2 separate regions of the Homo sapiens genome follow, and region 2 is linked to region 1. The links come from fine-mapping of genetic effects on gene expression. A gene starts in region 1. The other region holds a variant in brackets. All regions are shown on one strand. Distances are between the middles of the regions. Region 1 holds the start of LINC02894 (long intergenic non-protein coding RNA 2894). Region 2 has its middle 23 kb from the start of LINC02894.

What was found. PIP is the estimated chance that this variant, and not a neighbour inherited with it, causes the effect.
Region 2: its variant is the best candidate, but not a certain one, in a credible set for the expression of LINC02894 in lung (TOPMed, PIP 0.59).

The regions. Positions count from the first base shown.
Region 1 is chr8:94,637,531-94,641,915 of GRCh38, reverse strand. LINC02894 (long intergenic non-protein coding RNA 2894) reads left to right here and starts at 2,449. Exons shown (of 1, transcript NR_034034.1): 1 at 2,449-4,385. ESRP1 (epithelial splicing regulatory protein 1) reads right to left here and starts at 742. Exons shown (of 16, transcript NM_017697.4): 1 at 466-742. The coding sequence starts at 597.
Region 2 is chr8:94,614,322-94,618,706 of GRCh38, reverse strand. No RefSeq gene overlaps it. Among named protein-coding and RNA genes, the nearest start is that of LINC02894, 23 kb to the left of the region's middle. The variant C/T (reference allele first, on the strand shown) is at 2,452.

The DNA of each region.
Region 1 (4,385 bases):
CGGAGCCTCTTTCTGCACCCTCCTCCCTCGCTCCCCTGCTGGGGCGGCCCGCGCCTCTCTTGGGGTCCGGACGCAGAATCAAAGCTCTCGACTCGCCATCGGTTCCGGTGCGTTCCTGCCCCCCGCCCCACCCCCCACCCGATAGGTCGGAAAAGCCCTGGAAGTGGACCCCGGGGCCTCCGAGACCCCACCTCGTCTCGGCGGAGCGTCCCCCGACGGGCAAAGAACCCGGCTCGGTAGCGCCGGCCTCTCCACCTGAGCTAAGTTGCGGAGGACTGAAATGGCTCCAAGGCAGTTGGCCAATAAGTTTGGTTTTACTCTAGCTTCCCTAGGCCTCGGGTCCAGACTCACAAGTGGGCAAACAAGAGCACTTATTTACTTACCTCCACCCCCCTCCCCGCCCAAACCTCTACCACAAACTTCTTGCCCCATTCCTTGCATTTAGACGAAAATGTGGAGAAATACCTTCTTGTTGGCCAGATCCACGACTTTCCAGAACAGCAGGATCAACTCCTTCTCATCCGAGCCTAGCTTGGCCCCGGTGGCCCCAGCAGTGATCCCAAAAAGCACCACCAAGTAATCCGGAGAGGCCGTCATGACGATAGGTGGGGAGGGGGAGAGGGGGGGTCGGGAGGCGGTAAGGTGGTGTGGAAGTGAGAACGAAAAAACCTGTGCTAAACCCTCTTCTAAGAGAAAAAGAAAGAGCGCCCACCCCCCTTCCTTGCTACTGCTAGTGCAAAAGGCGGTAACCAACCACCCAAGCCCACACCTGGTCGGTGCTCCACGCCCAGGGCAGGAAGGGGGGTGGGAAGGAGGGCGCAGGAGGCCTGCCCTTTTTGTATTCAGTTGCCCGGGCGTCTATGCAAAAAGCCTGGAGCAAGGCTGCCCCCCCCGGGAGGCACGCAATGGCTGAAAGCTTTTCTGTTTTGGGATGTGGCTTTACCTGCCCGCCCCTTCCCCCTCCCCCACGTGGTGCAGGTAAGAGACACCTGGCGGCGCCGGCCCATTGGCTCCTTCAAACCACGACGTGGCAGCGGTGGGGGAGGAGGCCGCTTCGGGAGGGGGAGGAAGGGGCGGGAGACAATGGCTGGATGAATGGAGAGGCGAGGGCAGGGGAGGAGGAGGGGGAGACGTGAGGGGCAGGGAAGAGGCGGTTGACACCCAGAGGGTAGACGAGGCCAGACGGGGAAAGGGCTCAGAGAGGTAAAGGGCTCGGAGTCGCTGGGGGGAGGGGTTCCCACTGGAGGTAACTGAGAGGTGCAGGGGGGCTCGGAGAATACCGGCTGCAGGGAACGAAGCCGAAGGTTCTGAACGGTCAAGCGAAAAGGCCAGGTGCAGGGAGGCGAAAGGAGGCCAGAGGTGAGGCCCGGGGCGCGGAGCTGCCCAGGGCGCGGCGCAGGCGGAGGACGAACTGCTGAGGGAGGGACCTGCCAACCGCAGCCAGGAGGTGGCGGGGGCAACTGCAGATCCCCGGAAAAGCAGCTCCTGAGCCAACACAACTTTCAGTGCAAACAGCAGGAGAAATCCTGCGAGCCCCCCCTTCTCCGGGCCGGAGCCCGGGTGCACGCTCGTCCCAAACCCGCCGCGCTGCCCACCTTCCGGAGAGGAACCCCGCGCGCGGCAGAGCCGGACGCCAGGGGCTGGACGCCCAACCACCTAGTCACTCCCCAGGACGCAGTTATCGCGCGCAAAGCAGCTGGGGGACCCCGCAAGGAAACTCAGGCACAATGGAGCCCGCTTCTTTTTCTGTCAACTCTGAATGCTATGTCTGGTTTGGTCCTGGCTGCTAGTTCGAAGCTGGAACATCCTCCAGAGCTGGGGCCCATTTCCTTTTATTTGCCTTGGGCCCCAAATGAAAAGCATCTATCCGCATGCCTAATAAAAATTTTCTTAAATCGGGCCACGCAGGCTTTTTCCCAGGTTCTGCGCCCTGACCCCATTCCCTCTGCTCATGCTTTTGGCATTGTATTGGAGTGTGTTGACTTGACCAAGCTCCCAAACAACCTCCCTGCTCCACCTCAGCTTGGTCTGCCCAGAGGCTCGTACCCCAACCATCACCCCCCAGCCACCAGATCGGTGGCAGTATGTTGTTGGGTCTTGTTGACATTTTAGAGAGAAAAGCGCCAGAGGTGAAGTTTTCTCGGGTTTTATATCTCAAAGCGATTTGTTCTTGGGAACAGAATTCTGTCTGAAGTATTAATAATTCGGCTCTAGGTGTCCAGCCCCGTTCATATTCATGATGTGAAACGGGCAACCATGCACCTATCCCTGCAGAACCCACTCCGGGTACAAATCCGGTAACCTTTCAAGACGCGTGTCAAGGGAAGCTGGAGACCTGGCTTTCCCAGTGGGGGTTCAGCTCCCGGGAGGGGGGAGAGGAGCCCGAGGCCCGCGCCGTCTCGTTTCCTGGTAGGAGAAGGTGCAGGCGGAGGCGGGGCCTCCCGTGATACAGGTGGCAGCTCTCGTCCCCTGAGAGCGGGCGAAGGCCAGGGTCCCACACTCGCAGCGCTGCGACGGCGCTCGGGACCTCCCTCGTCCACTGCTTGAGTTCCAGAGGTGGGTGCTTCCCTGTCCTGAACTTCAGAGTGCGGAGTCATAAATGGGTTCCGGCTGGCTTACTGCAGTAGCCTCGCTCCTCCCCAGCCCCGGTAACTCCGAGCTACCCGTCCAGGCCCTCGGGCGTCGCGGGGGCAGGGACTGGGCGCGGAACGAGGCAGGGAGGGACCTGGAAAAACCACCCAGATTGCATTGCAGTGGGCGAGGCCGCCTGGAGGAGCCGGTTCCCCCTAACCACCTCCCCGTGGGGCTCTCGGTGCGCGGTTCCCAGGTGCTCAGCTCTGCTGGGCCCAGGAGGTGCCGCCTCACAGGGACGCGGAACCCCGTGCGTGGCCCCCGCCGGGTGGAACAGATAGCGCGGGGCGGTCCGGAGGCTCGTCGCCAAGCAGGTGACTCTTGCTGAAAAAGTGGTTGGAACACTTGAGGAAACCCGGCCCCGCCTGTTCTTTCTAGGTCTTTGGAGTTTGGATTAATCATTTGTGTAGCCCGTTTGGATAAACCGAAGACTTTATTAAATCAGCGCGTTTAACAGGAATTCCGCAGTAGTATCCACATTAGAATCTTGAGTCTTGGAGTTGAACATATTCACACAGACTTGCCTTCTTCCTGTTTAGTTTATGCCTTGTGTTCCGTTATTGGAACGCTAAGCTTGTGGGAGTTGTTTACATCCTACTGCTCAAGGTCATCGCTAAGGTGTGATTTTTCACAAAAAGAATTTGCAACCTCCGGCATGAATGACTTAAGGGAAGTCTAATCCCGGTTTCTGATTTTTTTTTTTTTTTTAATTTAAAAGTTAATCTTTCTGGGCCGGGCGCGGTGGCTCACGCCTGTAATCCCAGCACTTTGGGAGGCCGAGGCGGATCACGAGGTCAGGAGTTCGAGACCAGCCTGACCAACATGGTGAAACCCCGTCTCTACTAAAAACACAAAAATTAGCCGGGCGGGGTGGCGCGCACCTGTAATCCCAGCTGCTCGGGAGGCTGAGGCAGGAGAATCGCTTGAACCTGGGAGGCGGGGGGTTGCAGTGAGCCGAGATCTGGCCATTGCACTCCAGCGTGGGCAACAGAGTGAGACTCCATCTCAAAAAAAAAGGTTAATCTTTCCAACTAGATTTTCAAGGATGAGGATTTTGTTGTTGTTGTTGTTGTTGTTCTCAAATGTATTCCCAGGGCTTGGAACAGAGCCTGACATATACTAGGCACTCAACAAATATTTGTTGAATGATTGTAATGAGTAACACCCATTTTTGCAGATCTTTGTCTTCTGAGCCTAGGGCATAGGTCATCACTGCAGGGGTGAGATTGTCAAAATGGGAGTCTACAGGTAATTTAAGACTTAAATGTTTAAAGAGTATGTGCTCATTCTTCAACAAACTTACTTTTGTTAAATTAAAATGGTAAAATGTGGTGGAGGGGTTGGAATATATGTAATTCAAGACAGTTCTGAATACAAAAATGTTTTACTGTCTATCACCACCATCTATAAATCTAATTCACTAAGGATAATCTGTGTAAGGTGGCTGGAAAGAACCTTGAGGAGAGAGGCTTATTTAAGTATTGGCTCAGGACCACACCTAAAATTCTCAAAACGTTGAGATTCTGTTGTTTTGTTTTTAAGCGCCAGAGACCCAAGTTGAGGAACAGCCTATAAAATAACTGGCCTGTACTCTTACATACATGAAAGCCATCAAAGACAAAGACTGAAGAAGAACTTTTGCAGATTAAAGGACTTTAAGAGACATGATCCTGAACCAGAAAAAGTAAAAAATAAAAAAATAAAAAGATCTGTAGATTAGATAATAGTTTTATATCCATGTTAATTTCCCATTT
Region 2 (4,385 bases), 23 kb after region 1:
AAATTTTGTCACTTCAAAAATTGTATATACATATAATAATCATAGCGTATGGAACCTTTTGGCATTGGCTTTTTCTACTCAGCATAATTTCCTGGAGAGTCATCCCAATTGCTGCATGTATGGATAGCTTGTTCCATTTCATTGCTGAGTTCATTTGCTTTTTTTTTGAGACAGGGTCTAGCTCTGTTGACCAGGCTGGAGTGCAGTGGTGTGATCACAGATCACTGTAGCCACAACCTCCTGGGCCAGAGCAATTCTCCCACCTCAGCCCCCCATGAGTAGCTGGGACTATGGGTGTGTGTCACCATACCCTGCTAATTTTTGTATTTTTAGTAGAGATGGGTTTTTGCCATGTTGCCCAGGCTGGTCTCTGGGCTCCTGAGCTCAAGTGATCTTCCCACCTCAGCCTCCCAAAGTGTAGGGATTGCAGGCGTGAGCCATGGTGCCTGGCCCTCATTCACTTTTTTATTCTGTGATTGTAAACAACTACCTTTGGAGTTTGTGCTTTTCTACTTGTAGGGCCTTTGAAATTACCTTAACCCACCTAAGCCTCCATTTATTCATCTGTTTGTTGTTTTTTTGTTTTGTTTTGTTTTGAGACGGAGGCTGTATCCCAGGCTGGAGTGCAGTGGTGCAATCTTGGCTCACTGAAACCTCCACCTCCTGAGTTTAAGTGATTTTCCTGCCTCAGCCTCCGGAGTAGCTGAGACTACAGGCATGCACCACCATGCCTGGCTAATTTTTGTATTATTATCATTATTTTTGAGACGGAGATTTGCTCTTGTTGCCCAGACTGGAGTGCAATGGCGCAATCTCCCGCTCACTGCAACCTCTGCCTCCTGGGTTCAAGCGATTCTCCTGCCTCAGCTTCCCAAGCAGCTAGGATTACAGGTGCGTGCCACCACAACCGGCTAATTTTGTATTTTTAGTAGAGACGGGGTTTCTCCATGTTGGTCAGTCAGGGTGGTCTCGAACTCCCAACCTCAGGTGATCTGCCCGCCTCAGCCTCCCAAAGTGCTGGGATTACAGGCGTGAGCCACTGTGCCCGGCTAATTTTTGTATTTTTAATAGAGACAGAATTCTACCATGTTGGCCAGGCTGATCTGGAACTCTTGACCTCAAGTGATCCACCTGCCTCAGCCTCCCAAAGTGCTGGGATTACAGGCATGAGCCATTGCACCTGGCTGTTGTTGTTGTTTTAATGATGGGAAATTGACAATAGTATAGTTTTCCCCAGGATTGATATAAAGATCAAATGAGATGATAAGCATAATGATGCGTTGTGAACTGTGCACAACACATGTAGAATGTTATGATAATGGCCTTATTATGGGTCCTCCCATAAAGGAAGCTCCTGTTTTAAATTTTGTTTTCCCTGCTTCTTCCAGACATATCAAATTATTCCCATTTTGGGATTTTCTTCCAGCCAGCTAAACCGAAGGGGAATAGGGATTTGACTTTCAGGCCTCCCTTGAGGAAACTGCTTACTTGCCGCAGAGAGAGAGAGAGAGAGAAAGCATGAAGCTTTCAGGGCTCTTTTCAATTATTCTCAAACCCATTCTGATTGCAGGATACTCTGTGCGATTTGCACAACAGCATCCAAATTGATCAAAACAACTCCATTATTACATACAAAACCAATTTATAAGGCAGAAAAAAAAATCCCTCTAATTCTGTGTGCGCAGCCTAAAATCACATTCACAAACACACATATCCGTGAAAAAGAGCAGGATGTCTAAGTGTGGTTATCTCTTTTTGAGTTTTTCTGTAAATATTCATTTTACGTCCTACTAGAGCTCACTAGAAGACAAGTGATAACTTCTAAAGATTGAAGAAAAAATTTAGGGGAGATAAACTTAAAATCAGAAAATTCTACTTATTAACCTTTTTTCTTTTCTCAAACAAGGAGAAGGTACTGGTGGGAATGTTTCTGCCCAGTTCATCTTTTTTTCTTCTGAGACTGAGTCTCACTCTATTGCCCAGGCTGGAATGCAGTGGCATGATCTCGGCTCACTGCAACCTCTGCCTCATGGGTTCATCTTCTACTCGAATTCAGGTAAACCAGAATTATCTGAGAATTCCAATATAGATTCCAATTTCCTCTCGTACTAATTTAATAGATTTGGCATAGGACCAGGAAACTGTTTTTTGTTTTTGTTTTTTAAAGTTCATTGGGTCATTCTGATGTCGGCCAGGTTGGAAACTTCTATTTGAGATTTTTCTTCAGTGCCCTCTCATGGACTTTTCCTGACATATCTGGGTATTTCTCTTTCCTGTAAAATCTGTCCTTATGGAAGTTTTCCTTTCTATCAAAACCTAGTTCCACTGGGTTTTCAACTTCCTTCCTCCCCTGGAACCACCCTTGTCAACGTCATGATCACTTCTCTCTCTCCTCTTAACAGCGCAGCAGCATTTGACTTTGTTGACCATAACCTCTTGACCTGAAATACC[C/T]TCAACCCTTATTTCTGAAATGTTAGACTCTCCTATCTCTCAAATTCTTTTTTCTCAGCTCCTTTACTGGCCCCACCTCCCCTGCCTCACTCTTCAGGGTCCTGGATCCTGGAGCCCTGGCTGGGCTCTCTTCTGCTTTGTCTGTACTCTGTTCCTAGGTGCTCCTGTTTAGGTAGCTGGCTTTAAATACTATCCATATGCTAACAGCATTTACAGTTCTACCTCTTCCGGAGCTGCCTGCTTGACATCTCCCTTGGATATCTACTCAGCATTTCAAATTCATCAAGTTCAAAATAGAACCCTTGGCCAGGTATGGTGGCTTCTGGCAAAGTGCTATAATCCTAGCAAGTTGGGAGGCTGAGGCAAATGGATTGCTTGAGCCCAGGAGTTCGAGACCAGCCCTGGCAACATTGTGAAACACCGTCTCTACTAAAACCAACAAAATCAGCAGGCATGTTGGCATGCGCCTATAGTCACAGTTACTTGGGAGGCTGAGGTGGGAGGATTGCTTGAACCCGGGAGGTCGAGGCTGCAGTCAACCCTAATCCCACCACTGCACTCAAGCCAGGGTGACAGAGTGAGACTCTGTCTCCAGAAAAAAGACACACACACACACACACAAAAGACAACAACAAAAAAACACGACAACAAATATAGAACTTCTTTTTTTTTTAAGAGACAGGATTTTGCTATGTTGCCCAGGCTGGTATTGAACTCTTGGCCTCAAGCGATCCTCCCTCCTTGGCCTCCCAAAGTGCTGGAATTACAGGCATGACGCACTAGGCCCAGCCCAAAAATAGAACTCTTGTTTCCCCCATCGACACCACCAGCCTGGTTCTACAGTCTTCCTCATTTAATTGAACAGCGCCACCATCCAGGCAGTTGTTCAAGAGAAAAATGTAGCTCTTATCTTCCTTCCACTTCTCACCATCTTTCTGCTACTTCTCGAGTCCATGCCACCATCATCTTTCATTAAAACTATTGCAACTGTTCCCTAATCGGTTTCTCTGCTTCCATTCTTGCCTCCTTAGAGCTGATGCTCCACTGAGCACTATTTAAAATGTAGTCTGGGTGTGGTGGCTCACACCTGTAATCCCAGCACTTTGGAAGGCCAAAGAGGGAGACTGCTTGAAGCCAGGGGTTCAAGACCAGCCTGGGCAACAGGGTGTAGTGGTGCCTATCTGTAGTCCCAGCCACTCAGGAGGCTGAGACAGGAGGATTGCTTGAGCCAGAGAGATGGAGGCTGCAGTGAACCATGATTGTGCCAGTGCATTTCAGGCTGAGTAGGCAGAGCAACACACTGTCTCTTAAAAAAGAAAAAAAATATAAATGAGGTCAAACCACTCTCTTGTTTAAATCCCTCTAACGACTTTGCATAGCAAATAGAATAAGATACAGCCCCTTATTTTGTTTTTGTTTTTTATTTTTTATTTTAAATTTAAAAAAAATTCTTTTCATAGAGACAAGGTCTTGCTATGTTGCCCAGGCTGGTCTTGAACTCCTGGGCTCGAGCACTCCTGTAGCCTCAGCCTCCCAAAGTACTGAGATTACAGGCATGAGCCATTGTGCCCAGCCCAGCCCCTTATTTTGAAGCCTACAAAGTCTAAACAATATATCTCTGAGCCCCCACAATGCTGGCTCCTCTTCCCACAGATCATTGCTTTGCAGACTCCGTGGCATTTCAAGGTTGTCGAGCCTTGGCTCAAACATCACCCTTCCTGAGAGAGACTTTTCCTGAGCTTCTAATCTGAAGAGTCCTCCAACCAACAAGAAAGACTCTCTTCTTTCTTGTCACCTGATTTATTTTCTTCATTGCCCTTTCACTATCTGAGATTTTTTTTTTTTTTTTTTTTGAGACGGAGTCTTGCTCTGTCACCCAGGCTGGAGTGCAGCGGCACAATCTCGGCTCACTGCAAGCTCCGCCTCCCAGGTTC